Homo sapiens: one gene and its partners. The protein of the gene in region 6 purifies or fractionates together with the protein of the main gene of each other region. This does not show direct contact. Each region holds a gene or a part of one and is shown on either strand. Other genes may lie near its edges.

Region 1 (3,500 bases), on a different chromosome or scaffold from region 6:
AATGCACTTCAAGGAACTAGAACAACCTACAGGAGAGGAGAAAATATTTGCGAACTACCCATCTGACAAGGGATTAACAAGTCAATAGCAAAACCCCCAAATAATCCCATTAAAAATTGGGCAAAAGATCTTAACAGACATTTCTAAAAGAAGACATAAAAACGGCCAAAAGGCATTAAAAAAGTTCAATATTACCAATGCAATCAGAAAAACCTCAAAACCACAATGAGATATTACCTAACCATATTCAAAATGGCTAGTTTCAAAACGACAAGTGATAACAGATGCTGATGAGGGTAGAGAAAGGGGAACCTTTATACACTTTAATGGAAATGTAAATTGGTACAGCCACTATGGAGAACAGTACAGAGGTTCCTCAAAAAACTGAAAATAGAACTACCATATAATCCTGCAATTCCACTGCTGAGTATATATCCAAAACAAAAACATCAATATATCAAAGAAGTATCTGCACCTCCATGTTTATTATGGCACTTATTCACAATAGCCAAAATATGGAACCAACCTAAGTGTCCATCAGCTGATGAATGGATAAGGAAAATGTGGTATACACACAATGGAATATTATTCAACCATAAAAAAGGAATAAAATCCTGTCATTTGCAGCAACATGGATAGAAATGGAGGTCATTATGTTAAGTGAAATAAGCCAAGTATAGAAACACAAATATTGCATGTTCTCCCTCATCTGTGGGAGCTAAAAAAGTGGATCTCATAAGGATAGAGAGTAGATTGGTGGTTACCAGAGGCTGGAAAGGACAGGAGGGAGATAGGGTGAAGGAAAAATAAAGAATATAAATGTACTTATTACCACTGAACTGTATACTTAAAAATGGCAAGGATAGCAAATCTTATATGTGTATTTTATGGCAACAGAAAAAATTAAAAATTAATTTTTTAAAATAAAATGGATGGGGAGATCAACGGAGTTAAAGAATATTTCTAGGTCAAGTAATAAAAGGTTTGACAATCTTTGTAAATTATGTGGATAATATGATTTCTACTACAATCACTAGAGCCAGGCAATAGATTTTTCCAGCCTAAATCAAAGGGGTCTATTATGACTAAATCATACATAAGTCACAGAATAATTGCTTCTTAACTTGTGATGTTTCACAATCCCCAGTTTGAGTCCTTTTTCCTATCACTTTAACAACCCACATCTCACCACAAACAGTAGGGCCATTATCAATTGAGATAGAAGATTTGACTTTTGTTCCCCAACTGACCTGTGATGTTGAATTTACCTTTTCCTTATGAGCTTTTGGCATCTTATGACAAACAGTATCCTCCTCCGAAAAGTTTCTAATTGACTTAAGCTTTACAAGACATCCTAGGACCAAAGGAATCACTTGGGTGGCAGCACGTACATATCAACAGATCAAATGAAAACCTAATTAGCGTTGATCCTTGAACAACATAGATTTGAACTGCACAGGTTCACTTACACGCACAGTTTCTTCTGCCTCTGCCTCCCGTGAGACAGCAAGACCAACCCCTCCTCTTCCTCCTTCTCCTCAGCCTAAGCAACATGAAGATGAGGATGAAGACCTATATGATGATCCACTTCCACTTAATGGTAAATATATTTTCTCTTGCTCATGACTTTCTAATACCATTTTATTTTCTCTAGTTTACTTTATTGTAAAAATATAGTGTACAATACATATAAAATATAAAATATGTGTTAATTGACTATATTATCAGTAAGGCTTCTGGTCAAGAGTAGCCTATTGGTAGTTATGTTTTGGAGGAGTCAAAAGTTATATGCAGATTTTCAACTGCATGGAGTCATTGCCCTTAAACCCCTGCGTTGTTCAAGGGTCAACTGTAAATATATTTTTCATATCAGTTAGGGGACATACAAATTTCAAATATCCTAAATTAGAAGGGAAGGCTGTTTATCATCTGGGAGCACTGTTTAAAAGATGAGAGAGAAACACAGGAGTCTAAAATAACATGACTCCTGGAGAACAAAGTGGAAGAAATATTAAACCAGATACATATTAGTGCCCCTATAATAAGCATGTCTGTAAGTAGTAAGTTATTGACGTATTTAGCAATCTATGCTATCTTCCTTTTTTGTGTAACTGGTGTTGTGATGGATAAAGAAGAAACTGTCTTGAGCAACTTTCTGGAAGAAAAAGTCCATAGTATCCTTTCTTGAGGAAAGAATTTATTTCATTAAAAAATACTCTTATATCATTCTATACAATCACAAATGTTTCTCTTCAAGCAAAGACTCAAACACTAGCTAATTCTTTTACTTTTCCTAATTAAATACAAAAAGGGTAAGTTTTTTTAATTTTTAAAAACTTTAAAAAATGTTTTTACTACTGTAACCCATTATTCTGTAACAATAATTTAATTAAAATTCATTAAAGCAAACCAGATTACAGTTTTCATATTTCCATGAAAAAGAAAACTACTCTGGTTTAAGATAAAGATAAATGGGAGTCATAGATTAATTTAGATCTGAGAATGAATATAGAGAATCTTATTATTCATGGAAAACAAAGGAGAAAATATACCAGCACTTTGGGAGGCCAAGGTGGACAGACTGCTTGAGCCCATGAGCTCAAGACCAGCCTGTCCAACATGGCAAAGGAATATAAAAATTAGCTAGGCATATTGGTGTGCACCCGCAGTCCCAGCTACCTGGGAGGCTAAGGTGGAAGAATTGTTGGAGCCCAGGGAGGTCGAGACTGCAGGGAGCCGTGATTGCGCCACCGCACTCCAGTCTGGGTGACAGGGTGAGACCCTGTCTCAAAAAAAAAAAAAGAAAGAAAAGAAAATAACAGATCAAACTGAGGACCACAGATGTGGTCTCTTTATTGTGGCAACTAACCAGTGGTGTTTACATCTGTGGAGTTCCCGGAACCCAGAAGGGAAGAAGATGGAATAACTAATGCCAGGGGGAGAGGGAGAGAGAACCAATCCATATAAGAAGTCAGAAATACAGACATATAAATAGATCTAGAGAAATACACCCAAGAGGGGGACAAGATACAAGCAGTGGCAAGGAGAGATTCTACAGACAGATATGTAAAAGAATATAAATATGTGTATCTCAGGAATATGAAAGCATGCCCTCTAAAAAATTTAAAAATTGTATTGAAATTTCCTAACTATAGGCGGAAATCAAACGTAACTTGAATTTTTGAGCCAGATGAAATTAAGCAGTGTTCACTAAGCTTTTGGTAGGAGTTGAGTACTCCCTTAGTGGGCATCCTGCTTTAATGGTTAATAGGTCTGGGTAATTGACCACATGCTCTGTATTTAATATTTAAGAAAGATTAGGCTAGTGAATGATGTTAAGAGCAGGTAATTTTTCAAAGTCCTTGTGTTCACAATGAGGAAAACTAGGGGGAAATATTGATAGATCAACCTACAATATTTCCACCTGGCTTTTGCTTACAGTCAACACCCCCTACCCACCCTTGCCCATCCCCGGCCACAACTGCTCCCACCCCCATCCT
Region 2 (3,500 bases), on a different chromosome or scaffold from region 6:
CCAGGCAGTTTCACTATGTAATTGGGGTGACTGAAGTAACTTTTACAGAGTCTTATTCACTGAAACCTTGTAGTCACATCCGTGCAGGTCAACTGAGGTGATGATATACTCTAGAAAAGCAAATGCCATGTGGCCATGGGTGGCAGGAGAAATTAGTTGATTACAAAACACAAAACAGAATATCATTCTCTTGTTTGGCTCACAAGTTTCAATTAAACTAATAAAAGTCTAAGTGAAGTCCTGGGAATAAGAAGGAAGTACTACAAAATTGAGTTTCAGATTATCTTTTTTTGTATGGAAATAGTGACAAGAACACACACTTTGTAGTACAACAGAGGTGGGTCTGAATGCTGGTTTTATCTCCCTTATCTCAGGCAAAGGACATAACCTTCTCTGAGCTTCAGTTCCCTCATCTAGGGAATGAGGATCATACCCATCTCGTAAGAATGTCCTGAGATTTAAAGACAAGGTTTGTAAATCACCTGGCACACAATCTGAAATATGGCAGGTGCTCCAAAAAATGATAGCCCTGTGTTCTTTTACTGCCACATTAATAGGGAAGAGGACAGTGTAGGGCGGGAGGTGGGGATCTTGGCATTGCCTTTCGATCTCCTGTCTCAGTACACATCATATACGAACTGGGTTGGGAGTAAAGCTTGCTATACTGGAAACCCCTAGGAATTCATTTACTGAAGTGAAAAGGTGCAGAAACAGTAATGGGTCCAACTGCTAATGAATGCCAGATCACTGGGCAGGCTGCCCTACTCTGACACAGAAGCACAGAGGTAGGAGGTGAGGGCTGTGGATTCTCACAGGGAGAAACTACTGGAAACCGTGGGGGCTTAAGTTACTCAGATGTTTTTGTTATATGAGCTTGCCTATCATTATTAAGTACTTGTAAAGAGATGAAATTTGTTACTATTCTACGTTCAAGAATTTAAAATAGAATGAAGTTAAAGGATTTGATCAAAATGATATTGTGTTAAAGGGACAGTATACGCTTCAATCATCCCCTCCTCTTAGACATAATTATGATCTTTCTGATCAGGACATCTGTCTTGCTTGTCTGTCTTTTACCACAGGAAAACTAATTTAATTCCTTTTTTAGTGTAAAAGTTTTTCTACAGTAACAGTAATGCTTCCTAATGATACTCTCAGAATCCTTAACAGACAATATACTCAGTTGATGGTGGGTTACCTTCATATGTGAAAGATGACATGTACTGTATATGGACTTAATACAATAATCTGGGTCTCCTAATTTACAAAGAAATACTTCTATTATATAAAAACAGCTGAAACCTCTTTCTACAAGGGGCAGATAATAATAAAAGTCACCCAAATAGACTAGAACGAAGAAAGGAAGACCCAACAACAGTGTACCTTAATAATACATCGCTACTTTCCTGTCCCAATAATAGCTGGAAAATAAAAGCCATCGAGACCTGCTGGGGCCATCTCCCAGTTTGAAGTCCATCTCTCTTCTAACCTTAGAACCTTTTTATCTACAGCAACTCTAACAGCAAACAGGAGAAAAAAAGAACAATGTTCTTTCTGAACCAAAGCACACAAAAATGTTCTTTCTGTGGAGGTCTTGATTCCACTTGAAGTGCTGTTATAACCATGTGTGTTTCATGTTAATGCTCCACATGAAGCAAGGAAAGAGGAGTGGGACAATTCTCAACTGTGTCCAGCGTAACTTAAATAAAACCTTTAACTCCAGGAAGGTGAGGATGAGCATAGTATCCAACAGCCATATTCACTTCCCTCCCCACTCCCAAAATAAAAGTAAAGTCCATGAGTCTTTGTGGAAATGGAACAGAGAAGGAGCTCTAAAGGGGACTGGGAATGACTCTGTACCACACCTTGATGACAGCTCCAAAAGCTCCTTTACCAAGAAGTTGTAATTCTTCAAACTCAATGAAGTATCGGGAAAACTGTCTCTGTGTCTCACTAAAGAAGGCAGCACTGGGTAGCCGGTTGCTAGGAATAACAGTCTCAACATAATCTTGTCCTTCAGAATCTGAGATAAAACAGGGAGTAAGAGGCACATGAGGCATTGGAAATTTAGGAAGAGCTACATAGCCAACAATGATGGAAGCCCTGGAAGAAGAGCTCCAACCAGTAGTTTGAAAAATTACCTCTTACCTGAGTGGCCTTTTAAAACTTTTCCTCACCTTGCCCTCCTTAAAGTAGGCAGAAATATATAATTAGCCCAAGTTTACAGGTGGGGGATTATATAGAATAAGTGACTTAACTATAGAGCTAGAACCAAAACTCAGGTCTCATGATCCATCCCAATCTCTACCGAGGTTCCTTAATCTCAGGTGCAGCAGGAAAAATCTAGTTACATGGCACTATGGGTGACTAAACACTACAAGAGACTACAGCAATGGACATTCATTCCATCAATAGAGACTAGAAAAATCAGGGTGGCAAAACAGTCCCATGCACATGGCACACATCAAACTAATGGATTTAGTTCAGAATAAAAGACATAAAATAACACATGCAGCCCCTTCCAGTTTTTGGTTTATGTATACTTTCAAAATAATTTAATGTCAAACAGGTTACCAAATAAAGAAAGGTAACAGACTCACCTTCAGGACTTTGTTCCACTAGAGGCATTTTTGGCTGGGGATTTATAAAGCTGTGTTTCAACAACTGCTGGGGACTCCATCTTTCCTTGTCATCCAAGCACACACATCTCGGTGAGAGGGAAGGAAGAATCTTAGCATCACAAACAATCAGTGCTAAACTAGTTAATCCAAGGCATTAACTATGGGTTTATTTTTTAAAGATACACATTATAGAATTCATGTTACTCAAAGACCAGAATGTACTCTCATAGGTGAATTTAAATTAATAAACATTCCTGCAGGATTTACATGCTATGCGACAGGCTGGGTACAAGAGGCGAATCAAAAAAAGGCATCTCTAGATGAGAAGACTTACCCTCATGGAACAATTTTTTAAAAGTCTAAGGTAGCACAAGTAGGCTATAAATTTTCACCTCGATGAACAGTTTAATGCCTTGTCATGCCAAACTAAGCCTTTGCAGGAACCGGTTATAAATAAAGCTTTCGAAAGACAAAGCAAATCAGAGAGTTGGTGCAGCAGAGTGGCTCAGTATGACGAGCTTTAGATGAAGCCTGCTCATTACAGGATGAAGCAAGTTGGAAACATTTAGGGAAGGCTTTTTTAAAGTCCCATATTCTATTGCATACTTTTTTTAAAAATTGGTTTATGCTTTTTTTTTTTTTTTGAAATAGGGTCTTGCCGTATCGCCCAGGCTGCAGTGCAGTGGTGTGATCTCAGCTCATTCCAACTTCTGCCTCCCGGGCTCAAGCAATCCTCCCATCTCAGTAGCTGGGACTACAGGCAGGCACCACCAGGCCTGGCTAATTTTTATATTTTTTGTAGAGATAGGGTTTCACCACACTGCCCAGGCTGGTCTCCAACTCCTGAGCTCAAACAATCTGCCTGTCTCGGCCTCCCAA
Region 3 (3,422 bases), on a different chromosome or scaffold from region 6:
CTCCCGGGTTCAAGCGATTCGCCTGCCTCAGCCTCCCGAGTAGCTGGGATTACAGGCATGTGCCACCACACCTGGCTAATTTTGTATTTTTAGTAGAGACTGGGTCTCTCCGTGTTGGTCAGACTGGTCCTGAGCTCCTGACCCCAGGTGATCTGCCTGCCTCAGCCTCCCAAAGTGCTGGGATTACAGGCATGAGCCACCGCACCCAGCCTACATATCCATTTTGTAAGAGTGTCACTGTGGCAAAACCCCAACTGGTAAATGAACCTATTATTTCACCTATGTTTCTCTTATGCTAAATACAATGAACATAAAAGACTTAAGAGCCTTCTTCAGGAAGACATTTTTGGAACAGAATTATAAATATTTTGGGTAATAAGTTGCTAGAATTTTTTAAATAAAAATAGAGAGTATAATACTTCTCTCACCAACATAAACAAAATTAGAGAAACAGAAGAAAGAAAAAGCATTGAGGAAAGATAATTTTAAGAAAGTGCAGATTGAATTCGAATTAATTTTATTTTATAAGGAATTTAGAAAACATGAGCAAATATTCATATTGCATTAAAAAAACAAAGTCTATATATCATTCAAATTTTAAAAGTCAGTGTGACACTAAAAAATGTACTAACAAAGTAATATGTTTCATTTTAGAACAAAATTTTATCAGTGGCTCATCACAACTGATATACAAACAAAATGCTAAAATGATGTAAAACTGAATCTCAAAGTGATCCAGTTGGATGAAGGGAGCACCAATTATCATCGATGTGGGACTGCCATATACTCTACCAAAGAAAACAAACTACCATTAGGTGATAAAGATGAGCAAATAAATAAACTAGAGGGAGGGAATGAGCCCACAATTTCTGAAATTTTACAGTAAGTGGTTTATTTGTTTCTGTTGTTACATGTCTTTTGTCTGTTTTCTTCCTTCAAGAAATTAAGTGGATGTGTGAAGGATCCAAGAATATTTCCCAGGTATATCTTACTTTTTCAGGAAGAATAACTTTATACTGAAGAAATAATGATTAATACTCCCTATCACTTCAGCCACTGAATATACTATTAAAATTATTTGTTTTTACAACTATAGTATGCTTTTATTTATTTATTTTTAAACTGTAAGTCAATAATATTTAAAGAATGAAAGTCTCTTCATTTAAGAAATATACAGTCATCCTTTGGTATGAGAGGGGGACTGATTGCAGGACACCCCTTAAACCCCTCCTCTATACCAAAATCCATGGATGTTCAAGCCTCTTATATGAAATGGCTTGCTATATGCATATAACCGATGCACATCCTCCTGTATACTTTAACCGCCTGTATACTGTAACCTTTAAATTACTTAAAATACCTAACACAATGTAAATGTTATAGTAAAACTTTTACAGCTGTTAAACTGTATTTTTAAAATTTTACATTCTTTTTTTCTTTTTTTTTTTTTTTCTATTTTTGATCTGTGGTTGGTTTAATCTGTGGGTTTGAAACCCTTGGATATAAAAGACTGACTTTATTTAACTCCTGAAAAAAATTCCTTTTTTGAAAAGTGACAATAACATGAAGTTAATACATCAGGAGTCTTGAAAAGAATATTAGGTAATCCAATTATAACAATTTAAATTAGAATATTCAGGAACTGTATCTTGAAGGCTCAAAAATACTATTTATTTATTTATTTATTTATTTTTGAGATAGTCTCACTCTGTCGCCCAGGCTGGAGTGCAATGGTGTTATCTTGGCTCAGATTCTTCTGCCTCAGCCTCCTGAGTAGCTGGGATTACAGCCACCCACCACCATGCCGACTAATTTTTGTATTTTTAGTAGAGACAGGGTTTCACCATGTTGACCAGGCTAGTCTTGAACTCCTGACCTCAAGTGATCTGCCCACCTCGGCCTCCCAAATTGCTGGGATACAGGTGTGAGTCACTGCGCCCAGCCTCAAAAACACAATTTATGATTCCTTGTGAATTAAATTTCACTAAGATGAAGCACATCTAAGTTTAAAACTTGGGTACCATTATGTTTTACAATTTTTAAGAAAGAAAATTCACAACCTACTCAATAATCCTGAAGAAAAATCAGATTAAAAGTAGTAGGATATTTGTACATACAACATGTATAGATATATAAATAAACACTTTCTAGAAGGAAAAGGTATCATATTTAGTATTTATAGGCTACACTCTTTCTTTTAAGGAAGATTATAAAAGAGGGGCTAGGTATGGAGCCAGAAGTTGTGAGGGAAACCTCAAAGTAGTAAATACTATAACTCTTTGTAGAGTTTTACACTCAGTGTAAAGAAATGCAAAAAAATCCTTATACTATTAAATCTTTACTTGTATAAAAACCGAAATTAGTCCAACTACTTTTTGCCCATTTATGATGATAAAAATTGAAACAAAAACTCTCAACCCATTTTGTAAGACTTCTATTATAACATTCTTAAATCCAGTTCATATTGTTCCAGAGTCATGTAACATCAAGGTGGGGACACAAAATATGATAGTGAATTTTACCTTTTCTTAGGAAATGATCACAATTTCATTGAAAGTACAGGATAAAGTGAATAGCCCCTTAACGACTTGTGTACTTTATTGTCTTCAATAGAAAGTTCAAATATTTCCATTTTTTAAACCTCTAGAATATTATCCGGACATTTAAAATATTGATATTTGAGTTTACATTAAAGGACATCATACTCTGAAAACAGGCTGGCTTTAAATATAGTTTGACTGATTGTGGGGGTACTTACGGACAGATTTCTTTACCAAGTACCAGTTTCTTATATTTAAAAAAAATCAGCAAGATAGAATTTAAAAAATCTTCATTTACAATACATTGTAAACTGCAGACAGCAACTGCCACATACATCATAGACCAGCACAGGTAAAAATCTTTTTTCCGGATGTCTATAAGACTTTGTATCTTCCTTTATTTGTTGGTTGGTATGAATTTTGCTGTAATAGGAAATAAAAGATATGTCATCAGAGAAAGCAAAACAAAAAAAACAAAAAAAAAAAACGAACCAACCAACCAACCAAACAAACCCAAAAGGAAATATTTAAGATCATTTCCTTTGCCAACTTATAAAACTATTGGTTATTTAAAATTTTAAATGTTACTATTACTGCATTGAGAAAGGAAAAACTATTCAATAACTAATGAATTCTCTGTTCACTCAACTATTCCTTAACAACTATGTTTTGAATCAACCTAATGGTGGTAGCATCTATGGGCACAAGATTCTTTTCGACCACTCCTTGGTGAAATAGTATTAAGCACATGATTTAACAGCTGTTTTACTTTTTCCCTCTTGTTTTGTGAACCCACTTTTCATTAAACTTCTAACCACCCCCACCCCCCAACAAAAAAAGGAATGCTCTGTGAGGGGAATTTTAGAAAAGCTCTCAGAATTA
Region 4 (3,500 bases), on a different chromosome or scaffold from region 6:
GGGCAGGTCTGAAACGGTGGCTTACTCGTTAATAAACTGGCATTTCCTCCACAGGGCAGGTATGAAACGGTGACTTACTCGTTATTTAATAAACTGGCATTTCCTCCACAGGGCAGGCTTGAAACGGTGACTTACTCATTATTTAATAAACTGGCACTTCCTCCACAGGGCAGGTTTGAAACGGTGGCTTACTCGTTAATAAACTGGCATTTCCTCCACAGGACAGGCTTAAAACGGTGACTTACTCGTTACTAAACTGGCATTTCCTCCACAGGGCAGGTTTGAAACGGTGACTTACTCGTTAATAAACTGGCATTTCCTCCACAGGGCAGGTTTGAAATGGTGGCTTACTCGTTATTTAATAAACTGGCATTTCCTCCACAGGGCAGGCTTGAAACGGTGGCTTACTCGTTATTTAATAAACTGGCATTTCCTCCACAGGGCAGGCTTGAAATGGTGGCTTACTCCTTATTTAATAAACGGGCATTTCCTCCACAGGGCAGGCTTGAAACGGTGGCTTACTCGTTATTTAATAAACGGGCATTTCCTCCACAGGGCAGGCTTGAAACGGTGGCTTACTCCTTATTTAATAAACTGGCATTTCCTTCACAGGGCAGGTTTGAAACGGTGGCTTATTCGTTAATAAACTGGCATTTCCTCCACAGGACAGGTTTGAAACAGTGACTTACTCGTTAATAAACTGGCATTTCCTCCACAGGGCAGGTTTGAAACAGTGGCTTACTCGTTATTTAATAAACTGGCATTTCCACCACAGGGCAGGTCTGAAACGGTGGCTTACTCGTTATTTAATAAACTGGCATTTCCTCCACAGGGCAGGCTTGAAACGGTGGCTTACTCGTTATTTAATAAACTGGCATTTCCTCCACAGGGCAGGTTTGAAACGGTGGCTTACTCGTTATTTAATAAACTGGCATTTCCTCCACAGGGCAGGTTTGAAACGGTGGCTTACTCGTTATTTAATAAACTGGCATTTCCTCCACAGGGCAGGCTTGAAATGATGGCTTACTCGTTATTTAATAAACTGGCATTTATTTCCTGGTCTTGCCACTCTAGCTGCACTTCTAACCTTGGCCTTCTAACAGCAAAGCACATTGGCTTGGAGATGCCACTGCTGGCATCAGTGGATGCCGACCCAAAGCAAGGAAAAGGTCACAGTGATCCAGAAGATGGCGAGAACCCAGGGATCAAAGTTACCAGGGGGGAAAAAGGCATTTTTTGGATTTACTTTTGGGGCAACGAAAGAAAATGCAGAGAAAATGCAGGGGTGGGGCTGAGTCCCACCAGGTGGCAGGAAAAGGCAGGTGCAGGTGGGCGTGGTGAGAAGGCCCACCTTGTAGTCTTCCCTGGCATGCGCGCCCCGTGACTCCTTCCGTGCCTCTGCTCCGTAGATGGTCTGCAGCGCACACAGCATCAGGTTCTGCAGCTCCAGGGTCTCCACCAGGTCCGTGTTCCAGACCATTCCTGGGGACACAAAAAGTTCCATCAGGGGCAGGCGGGACCCAGTCACATGGGCCCTCCGAGCTGTCAGCCTGGGCCTGCTAGTCCATGGAGTCACTGGTTGTGGCTTTATAGCTGTGGGCCAGGACCCATCCAGACAGCAAGCACGGAACTAAGTCAGCACTGACGGGACAGACACCAGCCCACCCTGCAGAAGGAAGGGCCCAACAGTGTGCACAGAGCCCACTGTCTGCTCACCCCGGTCGAACGTCTTCAGGTGCTTTAGGTCTCCATAGAGCTTGCTGATTTTCCCACAACCTTCTTGCAACACGCTTCCCACACGGAACACGGCAGCATGATTTTGCATTGACTGTGGCACAAAATATTATTTGTAAACTTTTAATCCATAGAAGCAGCCATACCAAGAACTGCTTAACTTTTAGACCTGTTGTTTTGCATTTCACTTAAAAGTTACATAAATTAAACAGAAAAATTAGGAAATTCAGACTATGAGTTTATTACTCCAAACTTAAAAATGAAGTTTTGACTAAAGCTTCTGAATAAATAAATGTTTCTATTACATACACATCTTAGACCCACACACATCCTTTCCAGCAGGATACAGCCAGGGTCCAGGACTCCAAGCAGACTGCCTGTGAGGCACCATGTTCCATACAGCTCCACGGCCAACCAGGCAGCGCTGCCTCTCCACACCCCTGGCGGGACTCCTGACGCGGGGTCTGGTGGTGAACGTGACACAAGCCAGCAGCCCTGTGGTGATACACACTAGGAGGAGCTGAGCAGAGCCCTGGTGATGGTGGTGTTGGAGCTGCACGTCTTCAAGGAGAGGGAGGGGCGTGGGTGGCTGGGGCCCTTGGCCCATCTGGCTACTGTCTTCTGCCTATCTTGTAGAAGCTCCTTGTACACTGAGTTCCTTCATAGTTTTACTGTGATGAGAGACGTGCTATGCAGTGGACCTGAAGTTTACTGTAGGTATGCTGGGAACTAGGCGTCAGCTTTTGCTTCCTGTGGGACAGGCACCACCTCAGTGATCCCTCCTCCTCCTTGCTTCTCCCTCTAACTGTGCTTTGCTCCACTGACCCTAATTTTCTCTTCCTCTACCAATGCACCTTCATGGTTTAATTTGGACATTTCATCTGATTTTCCTTAGACTCATACATAATCGTAACACTGTAATGCACATCAACCTAATGGTTTTTCAGGAAGAACAAATGAAAAACATTGCATCTCAGAATCTAGTATTACATTCTTTCATGTCCATTAGCAGCCACATGTTTTCATATCCTTTTTTTCGTATTTCTGGTTACATTATTTCAGGGCATTTTCAATTTTTTTTGAAATGTGAATGAGATATTTACTGATGTCTGAGCAGACTACTGCTGGCACATTGTAAAGCTACTGATTTTTAGATACAAATCTCTTATCCAGACACCTTACTACATTCTTGTTTTGTTTCTGTTAGTTTTTCAGTTTATTCCCTGGGAATTGTTTGGAAATTCTATCTGTAAATAATGACAATTGTATCTATTCCTTTTCAATATTTACTGCTGAGACCAGCTCGGTTGTGGAGACCCTAACCCAGCGGTGCTGGAGGAATTAAAGACACACACACAGAAATACAGCATGTGAAGTGGGAAATCAGGGGTCTTACAGCCTTCAGAGCTGAGAGCCTTGAACAGAGATTTACCCACATATTTATTGACAGCAAGCCAGTGATAAGATTTACTAAAAGTATTCCTTACGGGAAACAAAAGGATGGGCTCTGGCTAGTTATCTGCAGCAGGAAAATGTCCTTAAGGCACAGATCGCTCATGCTATTGTTTGTGGTTTAAGAATGCCTTAAACGGTTTTCCACCCTGGGTGGGCCAGGTGTCCCTTGCCCTCATTCCAGTAAACCGACAACCTTCCAGCGTGGGCATCATGGCCATCAAGAGCATGTCAGAGTGCTGCAGAGATTTTGTTTATGGCCAGTTTTGGGGACAGTTTATGGCCACATTGGGGGGCCTGTTCCCAACGTGTCC
Region 5 (3,500 bases), on a different chromosome or scaffold from region 6:
GGTACTGCAGGAGACCAGGGCGTATTTCAGTCCTTATCTCAACCGCATAAGACAGACACTCCCAGAGTGGCCGTTTACAGACCTCCCCCCAGGAATGCATTCCTTTTCCAGGGTCTTAATAGTAATATTCCTTGCTAGGAAAAGAATTTAGCGATATCTCTCCTACTTGCACGTCCATTTATAAGCTCTCTGCAAGAAGAAAAATATGGCTCTTTTTGCCTGACCCCACAGGCAGTCAGACCTTATGGTTGTCTTCGTTCCCTAAAAATCACTGTTATTCTGTTCTTTTTCAAGGTGCGCTGATTTCATATTGTTCAAACACACGTTTTACAATCAATTTCTACAGTTAACACAATTATCACAGTGGTCCTGAGGTGATGTATATTATCAGCTTATGAAGATAACAGGATTAAGAGATAAAGACAGGCATAAGAAATTATAAAAGTATTACTTGGGGGCCCAGGCGCGGTGGCTCATGCCTGTAATCCTAGCACTTTGAGAGGCCGAGGCAGCCATATCACAAGGTGAGGAGATCAAGACCATCCTGGCTAACATGGTGAAACCCTGTCTCTCCTGAAAGTACAAAAAATTAGCCAGGTGTGGTGGCGGGTGCCTGTAGTCCCAGCTACTCAGGAGGCTGAGACAGGAGAATGGTGTGAACCCAGGAGGCGGAGCTTGCAGTGAGCTGAGATTGTGCCACTGCACCCCAGCCTGGGCGACAGAGAGAGAATCTGCCTCAAAAAAAAAAAAAAGAAAAAAGTATAAAAGTATTACTTGGGAATTGATAAATGTTCATATTGAAATGAAATCTTCACTATTTATGTTCCTCTGCCACGGCTCCAGCCAGTCCCTCCATTCGGGGTTCCTGACTTCCTGCAACACAGGTGTGAGCCACTGTACCCAGACTAGGGGTGCAGTTTTTTTTTTTTTTTTTTTCTGAGACAGAGTCTCACTCTGTTAACCAGGCTGGAGTGCAGTGGTGCTATCATAGCTCACTGCAGCCTTGAACTCCTGGGTTCAACTCACCCTCCAGCCTCAGCCTCCCTAGTAGCTGGGACTGTGGGCCCTGCAGTTTCTCCTTTTAGAGTAGGAAGACCTGAACTGTCCCAGGCTTGGAGTGGGTGGGCGATGCAGCCCCTGAACAGGAGCCAGAATGACAACACCTGCTGCCAGGAAAGAGCTCTAGATAGAGCAGCCATACAGGAGGGCCCCTGAGGTGGCACCCTGAGGTGGCCAGCCTGCCTGTGGGTGCACATTTTGGGGGACCCTTCCACTTGCCCTCACTGGTGCAGTGCTGCATTCTCTTGGGCCTTGCTATGAGCTCTGGGCTCCTGCTCTTTGCTGGCCTGTACCAGGCAGTGGGTTCAAAGAGGAGCAGAAAATTAATGGACAATATGTCAGAAGGCAGAGGCAAGACAGACACTTGCTGGGGCCAAGCCCTGCAGGTGGAGAGGGTATGCCTGGCTAAAGTGGGTGAAAGGCAAGGTTATGAGGTTCTCCAGGACACTGGAGTGCACAGGTGGTGTGTCCCCAGGTAACGCCTGCCACCCAGCCCTTCCTCCCACAGAACAGCATCTGCCCTACCCACCTTTGAGGTACTTTGGGGTCCTTCCTTCCCAGCAGGCTACCCAAGCCCTTCCAAGTGCTTAAAGGCAGATTTCCTATGCTTGCAAACGACTGCCCTATGCCAGTGTTTATCAGCCCGAGAGGGCTCCTGGGTGTGCACAGGGGGCGAGCAAGCTGCCCAAGATAAGCACATCCATACAGACAGCTGCTCACCCTGCCTGATAGCAGACAGAGGGGGCACAGTGCGAGGCTGCAGGGCAGGATGACCTAACAAGGGCCCTGCTATGGCAACAAGAAGGACAGGCACCTGCCATGGAAGGTAGGGACGTTCTGAGCAAAGCTTCCGGCTACCAGGCAGCTGGAGGAGAGAGATGCTTCTCCATCAGCAGGTTCATGCTCCCCGGGGGACCTGGTGGCATTTTCTCCCTGACCAGCAGTCCTTGGTTCTCTAGACTTATATTAAAGCCATTAGAATAATTTACAACAATTTAGGCCTTTCCAGAGCCCTTGAGTTGAATTAGGAATTGAGTGTGCTTTGGACTGGCTGTTGGAACCGAGTTGTGGCTCTGTCAGTTCCCGCAGGTGCGCACACATCTCACGTGCACTCAGAGGCTGGCTGCCAGGTGAAAGAGTGGGTGGGTTTGGTTGTGGGGCAGGCTCGCTGCAGGCCATGGCCTGAGTGCCTGGATGCAGCTTCCCAAGCTTTCTCAGCTGTGAGCCAGGGCTCCTCTAGGCTCCAGCTCTTGTATCCTTTAGGAGTGCATGTTCTAGACCTGTCTGTGGGGCATCTGCAGGGCCAGGGTGTGGAGAGACATGACACTCCAAGTACACTCTCTGCAGCCTTGCCTGCCTAGGAAGGTGGAGGTGGCTGCAAAGATAAGTGCAGCCTTCTCATGGCAGACGCTAGGCTCTGATGGAGGTGTTGGGCAGGTTGCCCAGCCTTGTATGACAGACCCTGCTCTGATCATGGAACCTCTTGGCCTTGTCTGAAGCAGCGACCGGCTCCAGATGCTCTGGGAGGGTGGTGCTTCTCATCTGGGCAGGCTCGTGTCTGCAGAGGGGCTGAGGGCACTACTTGTTTTATACCCTAGAGTCTTGTCATCAGTCCCCACCCTGCCCTCACCCCAGCAGACTGATGACTTGCTATTATTTCTTCCTTCCTTCAGCAGGGAGTTGGCTGGTGCCTGGTGCTGGGTGTCCCGGACCTCAGGCCCAGTTCAGTGTACTTCCCCTCTCTACTTCCTCCCTCCAGTCCCTTCTCCATCCCTCCCTTTTTTGGCTGCCCCTTGCCTGCCTTCCTCGCCAGTAGCTTGCAGAGTAGACACGATGACACCTTTTGCAGGCTAAAAAGGCTGAGAGTGGCACTATGTGCAGTGAGCCACCATGGAGGACCAAGGTGAGGCGACACCACAACCAGCCCAAAAGGAATTCCAGGGATGAAACCTGAGCCCAGGCAGCTCTCCCTGTGCCCAGGGTGGCTTCCCTCCTAGCTGACTGCAGCTGGGCACACCAAGACCCTGGCTGTGTGCACTGGCCAGCTGTGAGGGACAGGGGCTGCTTGTGCTTTTATTCTTTTTTTTTTTTTTTTTTTTGAGACGGAGTCTCACTCTGTCTCCCAGGCTGGAGTGCAGTGGCGTGGTATCCGCTCACTGCAAGCTCCGCCTCCCGGGTTCACGCCATTCTCCTGCCTCAGCCTCCCGAGTAGCTGGGACTACAGGCGCCCACCACCATGCCCGGCTAATTTTTTTGTATTTTTAGTAGAGACGGGGTTTCACTGTGTTAGCCAGGATGGTCTCGATCTCCTAACCTTGTGATCCACCCGCCTTGGCCTCCAAAAGTGCTGGGATTACAGGCGTGAGCTACCGCCCCTAGCCTGTGCTTTTATTCTTGCTCACTTGTGACGGAGGGCAGCCTTCACAACTGAAAGGCACGTG
Region 6 (3,500 bases):
CCCGGGCCCAGGCTCACTCTGGGATCCATGTGTGGCCTGGAGGCCACCAGGTCAGCAGGCATTTTCCCTGGTTCTACCTGCACGTAGGGTGCACAGGCAGAGCCGTGAAGGGCCGAGCCGCTGCGGGACTGGGAGGGGGGCTGCCCGCCAGGGCTGCGTAGCATCGAGCTCCTGCTGGGACTGGGAGGAAGCTGGCCTGGCTGAGGCGGACCTCCTCCTCCTTCCTCTGCGTGGCCCTTGGCCTTTAGTGCACCTGGGGGTTTGGCGCAGTCCTGTCCCAGGATGTGGGCGTGGCCTTCCCTCTTTGTGTCCTGCTGGACACTCAGGGAGGCCCTGAGTACCCCCAGGAGTCAGCCCAGAAAGCCATGTTCCAGCCACAAGCTGACATTGCAGTCTCGCAGCAGCCGGGGCCTCCACAGCTCTGGTTCTCACGTGGGCTCCGCTGCTGCCCCCGTGAGACTGGGGGGAGGACAGGTGTCCCCACTGTGCCCTGTTTCTGTACCTGTGAAGTGTACACAGCATGGAGGACCCTTCCCAGCAGGCTGGCGCTCATCCTGGAGCTGCTGCAAAGCTTGCGTTTCCACAAGCATTGTAGATGCAGTGTGGTTTTTCTTTTGTCCCTTCCAGATGTGGTAACGAAGTACAGCAACTTCGTCAGCTTCCCCTTGTACTTGAATGGAAGGCGGATGAACACCTTGCAGGTGAGCCCTGAGTTCCTCTAGGGACTGGTCAAACATGGAGACAAATCTGTACGTTTCAGGGCAGCGGAGAAGAGATGAGCCCAGGGGATGCGGCCCAGAGTCACAGGGCGAGCTGCTCTGTGGAGATGAGACCTGGGTGTGGGGATGAGACAGGGGCCCAGCTCTACCACAGCCCTGCCCCTGTGCACCGGGCAGCCGGGGTCAGGGGTCAGGGTTCACTGAGGCGTAACGCCCATCCCAGCTGGCTCACCACATCAGTGTGCAGCCATGGTGTTCAGTGCAGCCACAGAGCTGTGCAGCCACCCCGCATCAATTCCAGAACATCCCATCACCCCAAAAAGCAGCCCTTTCCCCACTGCCCCTCCCCCAGTCCCAGCAGCCACGGTCTCCTTTCTGTCCATTGTGCTGCCTGTTCCAGACGTTTCTCCTGGATGGAGTCACACGGCATGCTGTCCTCAGTGACTGACTTCCCCCTCGCGGCTCAGCTGCGGTGCAGCGTGGGTCGTCATCGCTCTCACGGCCCACACTGTATTCGTCAGCTCGCCCCTGCTGGGCAGCGTCATCCTCTCCCACAGGCCCCCTCAGGTCCCGGCTGGTCCTCCTGACATGTTGTCCTGAGGAGCTCCTGCCCCAGAGCCTTGTGTGTCTCCCCTGCACTACCCGGCATAGCCCAGCGGTGGGGCTGGAGAGGGGTCTACGCCTGAGACCACCGCCCGTCTGTCCCAGGAGCCTGTCCAGGGCCAGGCGCTGCACTGGCTCAGGCCTGCACGGTGGTGGAGAAGACGTGCGTGGTGAACACGACGCCCTCCCCGCCGATCTCCGTTTCCAGGCCATCTGGATGATGGACCCCAAGGATGTCCGTGAGTGGCAACATGAGGAGTTCTACCGCTACGTCGCGCAGGCTCACGACAAGCCCCGCTACACCCTGCACTATAAGACGGACGCACCGCTCAACATCCGCAGCATCTTCTACGTGCCCGACATGGTGAGGCACTGTGGCAGTCCCACGGCCCTCAGGGTGACTCTGTTGTCCCCTGTGGCATCAGCTCTGCAGATGTCACATGATTAACATGGCAGTGTGAGGGCATGAAAAACATAGGTAGTGCTGGGTGTGGTGGCTCACGCCTGTTATCCCAGCACTTTGGGAGGCTGAGGAGGGTGGATCACCTGAGCCCAGGAGTTGCAGACCAGGCTGGCCAACATAGTGAGACCCCATCTCTGAAAAAAAAGAAAAAAAGAACAGATGCCTCTGGGTGGGTAACCACAGAGGTTTCCTCTGTCTCAGGGGTCACACATGGCGAGGGAAGGATTGATGGGCATCTCAGTGCAGGCTGGGGTGGAGGCTTGTGGACTGGGGTGTGCCTGGGGAGGGCCCTCAGAGCCTACATCATCTGCTGTGGATCAGTGGATGCTGTCCTGCCAGGCGCTCTGGGAAGGGCCTGTGGTCTTGCCTCTCCGTTGGCCTCTCTGTGTGCTTCCTCCACACCCTCCACCTCCCCTGGTTTCCTTTACCACATTGAAGTTCCCGCAAATCCTGCCGTAAGGAGACCTATTCGGGGCTGAGAGCCAGCCCGTCCTGCCCCCAGGCTCTTCTGTCCTTGGCTGCCTGGAAACTCTCCTAATGTCCTGCACAGCTGGCATCCATCTTGGAAAGAGCCAGCCAGGTGTGGCCTCCAGGGGCTTGTTAGAGTCTCAGGCCCCACCCAGGGCTCCTGCGTGGGAGCCCACATTTTAATAAGATCTCCCCGCATTTTAACCGGATCCCCCCCATTTTAACCAGGTCGCCCCACATTTTAACCAGGTCTCCCAACATTTGAACTAGATACCCGCCGCATTTTAACCAGATCCCGTGATGAGGTGTGGGTCCCGGTTCGGGAAGTACCAGTGTGGAGCAGGTGTTGGCAGGCACGTTCCACGAGGGCCAGACAGGAGCTGGTCCCAGCGTTTCGGGCCCGGTGTCTTTCGTAGCCACTAACCCTGCCGGGTGAGGAAGCAGCACTGCCCTGCTGCCCTCTGAGCACACAGGGCCGGGTCCCATGAGCTGCGTAGACACTGAAATTTGAGTTTCATCTTCACGTCTCATGAGATCATCCTTTTTGAAATCTTTCCTCAACTGTTTGAAAGTGTAAAAACCACTCTTAGGCTACACAGAGGTAGGCAGTGAGCTGGATCTGGTCGGAGGGCTCTTTGCTGATCCCTGACCTGTAGCAAGGTTTGGCTGTGTTCAGTGTGTTCAGGGGTACGTGCAAGGTTCACTCTCTTGTGTCCTCCTTAGGGGGTGGGCTGGGGAGGGCGGCAGCTGCCAGAGAAGGCCTTCAGCCCCTGCAGAGCCACAGTGTGGGGCATCGTGGGGCCCCTGCACTGGGCTTCAACTCAGAGCAGACGCTGGGGGAGGGCGAGGCGGGAGTGGGCTCTGGATTCATCGTGTCCGCCCCCACCTCCCAGCCAGGGCCTGCCTGGGGAGGGTCAGTGCTGCATGATGGCGTGTTCTCCTCACCCCCAGAAACCGTCCATGTTTGATGTGAGCCGGGAGCTGGGCTCCAGCGTTGCACTGTACAGCCGCAAAGTCCTCATCCAGACCAAGGCCACGGACATCCTGCCCAAGTGGCTGCGCTTCATCCGAGGTACGCTGCTCAGAGTCCGTGAGCAGTGCCCCCGTGGCCCAGTGTCGCCCGCTGCATCTGTGAGGGACCGTGCTGATTCCATTCTCAGCAGCCCTCTGCAGCGAGAGCACCGCCGTCGGCCTGCGCTGCCTGTGTGTCAGTCGCGTTTACAGACCCCGGGAGCTGCCCCACCTCC
Region 7 (3,500 bases), on a different chromosome or scaffold from region 6:
TAAACAATAAAATTAGAAACAAAGGTTACACGAACAAGAGAAAAGATTTTTATACATATATACATTATTAGGACTCTAAGGTTCTTTACATATATATACATATTATTAGGACTCCTAAGGTTCTTAAGTTTATTTTTGAAACGTCAATTTCAAATGAAGAAACATTTACACTTACCAGTAGAGTAGGAGTTACAAAAGTAAGGCAAGGATTCTCCATGCCACCATAAGGGAAGGATGGTGGCAGGACCAATAGGTCATACTGTCCCCATACATACGGTCCTCCCAGATCTTCTGCTATTTTAAGCATAGATTCAGTCTGAAAAATCAACATATATATGTCTGTATGCCTTAATTATCACCATTGTACATTTCTTAAAATTGTATATTGCTTTCTATGAAGGTTACAAGTTAATGATTTTTATGTTAAATGAAAATGATAAAAAGAATGTAGCAACTACACATCTACATAAAAGACAATCTGGTTCTTTCCCCGTATCACTTAAAACCATCACATTTCACACTCAAAATCTTCAATCTACTGTCTATCACAATGATTACAAAGGATAACTAAATGACCAACCTCAGAAAACTCATAAGCAGACTTTTCCACCTGCTCTTTCTCAGACCACACCAAAGTTCTTGGGCCAATTTGCCTGCAAGATTAAAAAGCTTAATAAAAAAGAAATTCATGGCAAATGATTCATCTGGTTCTAAAAAGTAGTTAATGTCTTGTAGACAAACCTTTACAGTGAGAGTGCATTTACCATGTGCCTATGGGAAAGGGATGAGGTTACATGGCGTGAGCTGCAAACCTGCTGTTGTATATGCAGCAATAGATATGCAGCTCTCTAAGGAGGTACAGGCTGGGCCAAAGGAAAAAAACCAAGACATAAGGTGTCCCCAATTAGTTTATTGCCTCTTGTAAGACCTCTTGAGGGTCTCATTTCATCCCTCAATTTCACAACTATAGAAACCCAGTCACAACTCATAAGAAACTATTTTTTTTTTTTTTTTTTTTTTTTGAGACGGAGTCTCGCTCTGTCACCCAGGCTGGAGTGCAGTGGCACGATCTTGGCTCACTGCAAGCTCCACCTCCCAGGTTCACACCATTCTCCTGCCTCAGCCTCCCTAGTAGCTGGGACTACAGGTGCCCGCCACCACGCCCAGCTAATTTTTTCTTTTTTTTGTATTTTTAGTAGAGACAGGGTTTCACTGTGTTAGCCAGGATGGTCTCAATTCCCTGACCTCATGATCCGCCTGCCTCGGCCACCCAAATTGCTGGGATTACAGGCGTGAGCCACCACGCCCAGCGTTTTTTTTTTTTTTTTTTTTAAATATACAGGGTCTCATTCTGTTGCCCAGGCTGAGTACAGAGGGGCCATCACAGCTCACTGCAGCCTCCACCTCCTGGGCTCAAGCAATACTCCCACCTCAGCCTTCTGAGTAGCTGGGACTACAGGCATACACTACCATGCCCGATTAATTTTTTATTTTTTTGTAGAGACATGATCTCACTTATGTTGCCCGGCCTGGTCTTGAACTCCTGGGCTCAAGCGATCCTCCCACTTTGGCCTCCCAAAGTGACGGGATTACAGGCATGAGCCACAGAGCCCAGCCTGTAAGACTATTCTAGAACAGGAATGGGTATAAACTTTGTCATGCACTTAAAGGTTGAATACTCTTATATAAGAAGAAACAAATAGAAAATGAAGGAAATCCTGTCAGATGCTATAACGTGGATAAACCTTAAGGGCATTATGACACCTTGAATGAAATAAGCCAGACACAAAGAGATAAAATCATACTGTATGATTCTACTTATGTGAGGTATCTAAAGTAATCAAATTCATAGGAACAGAAAATAGAATGGGTGTTACCAAGGACTGGGCGGTGGGGGAAAGAGGAGCTATTGTTTAATTGGTGCAGAGTTTCAGTTCTGCAAAATGAAAAATTTCTGAAGATCTGTTTCACAACAATGTGGATATACTTAACACTACTGAACCGCACACTTAAAAACAGTTAAGTGTGCTTAAAACTAAGAATGAACAAAAAATTAAGAAGGAAGGGCACTTTATTTGTAAAATATTGATAAAATATCTTACATTTCTGTAATATTTGTAGGCTTCCAAGTTCTTTAATATATTTTATCTCATTTGTTTCACATAACCACCCTATGAGGTAGAAAGTCAGACATTATAATTTCAAGGATAAGGAAACAGAGATTGAGAGTGACTTGTTCAAGCTTACATGAGAATCCAGATCTCTAAAGGTAAGAGCATGCTCATTTTACAATACTTGAAAAAATAAGGGGTAACTGGTCAAGATTTTTAAATGTAAAATTAATTTGTTGCCTACATTTTAGATTTGAATTTTTCTAGAGCTGTCAGCTTGATATCTTGAGAAATATGCAAATGATTGACCAATTAACCTTGAGAGAAGTTCAAGATGCCTAAGTTTTGATCTTTCCACAAACCTGAAAATTTTTCCAAAAGCTCACCTGCTTTCTAAAGCTCCAACAACTAAAGCAATCAGGTAGCAGGGTATTGGAACCTAAAGAGGGCAAACAAACGCACACCACGTGCTTGCATTAGTGTTCACAAATGTTACACAGTAAGACAATTCATATTTAAAAGTAAGTAAATTCCCTTTCAAATCTCCTAATATTAGTAGGGATAACTTTGCTTTTATACTTCTCAAATAGTTCTCATCTTTAACATATAGCTTAAAATTGTGATATAAAACATTGTTCAAAACATCTATTTGCCTTTTATTCTGCTAGGAACAAAAGCTTCTCACACATGAAAAACAAGATCACACATACTATTAAAAGGTGCATTTTGAGCATTTCTCAAAAAGTAACCTACAGGAAGCGCATTTCCCATATGTTTGCCTTTTTCCTCCTGACTTTTAAAAGGTTTTGGTTTTCTTTTTTTATTCCTTTATGTTTCAAAGCACTATTGGCATGTTGTAGAGGCACACAGAGTTACCCGGCAATAAGTAGATGCCAAAGTTATGGGAGCTTGGAACCACAGAAGCTGCAGTGGAAGTCAAATTATCCATTGTGAGGTCAATTAAGAAAACACACACACACACACACACACACACACACACACACTCACGCATGCATACACATTCTGTTCACTGAAGGTCAAAGATACATGTCTAATGACCAGGACTGTAACTGAGTGCTTTTTTGGTCTTGACTCCTCCATTTGTAAACACTCTCAACAGCCACTTGCCCACACTGTAGTACCAGGGCAGGTGAATGCGTAAGAACTCAAAAGAACAGGAAGCCAGCCCCTGAACTGGAGTGAGGGAAAATGAAAACAGGTATGCTCCCTATTCTGTCTCTACAGCAAACCCTCTCTTCAATACAACACTCTGTAAGTAGAACAAAACCCTTTAAAAGCACAAAAGAAAAAAAAATGAAGAAAACAAAAACCAAAAGCTGTTCTCAAAATTCTGAAATATTTCAAAAGTAATTTTGCCCTCTGGATGTG

What was found.
Region 1: the proteins of TRAP1 (region 6) and AADAT fractionate together in Homo sapiens (co-fractionation; one large-scale study listed by BioGRID). This does not show direct contact.
Region 2: the proteins of TRAP1 (region 6) and EIF2AK4 purify together in Homo sapiens (affinity purification with western blotting, with the first as the bait; one study listed by BioGRID). This does not show direct contact.
Region 3: the proteins of TRAP1 (region 6) and DDX46 fractionate together in Homo sapiens (co-fractionation; one large-scale study listed by BioGRID). This does not show direct contact.
Region 4: the proteins of TRAP1 (region 6) and SDHA purify together in Homo sapiens (affinity purification with western blotting, with the first as the bait; one study listed by BioGRID). This does not show direct contact.
Region 5: the proteins of TRAP1 (region 6) and TXNRD2 fractionate together in Homo sapiens (co-fractionation; one large-scale study listed by BioGRID). This does not show direct contact.
Region 7: the proteins of TRAP1 (region 6) and LTA4H fractionate together in Homo sapiens (co-fractionation; one large-scale study listed by BioGRID). This does not show direct contact.

The regions. Positions count from the first base shown.
Region 1 is NC_000004.12:170,083,457-170,086,956, forward strand, and holds part of AADAT (kynurenine/alpha-aminoadipate aminotransferase, mitochondrial), read right to left. Parts: intron 1,538-3,500; exon of another isoform or gene 1,293-1,537; coding exon of another isoform or gene 1,269-1,292; intron 1-1,268. UniProt on the Homo sapiens protein: Transaminase with broad substrate specificity. Has transaminase activity towards aminoadipate, kynurenine, methionine and glutamate. Shows activity also towards tryptophan, aspartate and hydroxykynurenine.
Region 2 is NC_000015.10:39,972,115-39,975,614, reverse strand, and holds part of EIF2AK4 (eIF-2-alpha kinase GCN2), read right to left. Parts: intron 2,708-3,500; coding exon 2,601-2,707; intron 2,024-2,600; coding exon 1,866-2,023; intron 1-1,865. UniProt on the Homo sapiens protein: Metabolic-stress sensing protein kinase that phosphorylates the alpha subunit of eukaryotic translation initiation factor 2 (EIF2S1/eIF-2-alpha) in response to low amino acid availability.
Region 3 is NC_000005.10:134,828,200-134,831,621, reverse strand, and holds the end of DDX46 (probable ATP-dependent RNA helicase DDX46), read right to left. Parts: intron 2,964-3,422; coding exon 2,916-2,963; 3' UTR 501-2,915; downstream 1-500. UniProt on the Homo sapiens protein: Component of the 17S U2 SnRNP complex of the spliceosome, a large ribonucleoprotein complex that removes introns from transcribed pre-mRNAs.
Region 4 is NC_000005.10:249,320-252,819, reverse strand, and holds part of SDHA (succinate dehydrogenase [ubiquinone] flavoprotein subunit, mitochondrial), read right to left. Parts: intron 1,829-3,500; coding exon 1,717-1,828; intron 1,483-1,716; coding exon 1,352-1,482; intron 1-1,351. UniProt on the Homo sapiens protein: Flavoprotein (FP) subunit of succinate dehydrogenase (SDH) that is involved in complex II of the mitochondrial electron transport chain and is responsible for transferring electrons from succinate to ubiquinone (coenzyme Q).
Region 5 is NC_000022.11:19,931,819-19,935,318, reverse strand, and holds part of TXNRD2 (thioredoxin reductase 2, mitochondrial isoform 5 precursor), read left to right. Parts: intron 1-1,588; exon of another isoform or gene 1,589-1,652; intron 1,653-1,792; exon of another isoform or gene 1,793-1,878; coding exon of another isoform or gene 1,879-1,885; intron 1,886-2,765; exon of another isoform or gene 2,766-2,949; coding exon of another isoform or gene 2,950-2,962; intron 2,963-3,500. UniProt on the Homo sapiens protein: Involved in the control of reactive oxygen species levels and the regulation of mitochondrial redox homeostasis. Maintains thioredoxin in a reduced state. May play a role in redox-regulated cell signaling.
Region 6 is NC_000016.10:3,672,525-3,676,024, reverse strand, and holds part of TRAP1 (heat shock protein 75 kDa, mitochondrial isoform 1 precursor), read left to right. Parts: exon of another isoform or gene 1-627; coding exon 628-701; exon of another isoform or gene 702-1,530; coding exon 1,531-1,686; intron 1,687-3,204; coding exon 3,205-3,325; intron 3,326-3,500.
Region 7 is NC_000012.12:96,018,588-96,022,087, forward strand, and holds part of LTA4H (leukotriene A-4 hydrolase), read right to left. Parts: intron 2,551-3,500; coding exon 2,498-2,550; intron 2,172-2,497; exon of another isoform or gene 2,105-2,171; coding exon of another isoform or gene 2,103-2,104; intron 654-2,102; coding exon 581-653; intron 317-580; coding exon 176-316; intron 1-175. UniProt on the Homo sapiens protein: Bifunctional zinc metalloenzyme that comprises both epoxide hydrolase (EH) and aminopeptidase activities. Acts as an epoxide hydrolase to catalyze the conversion of LTA4 to the pro-inflammatory mediator leukotriene B4 (LTB4).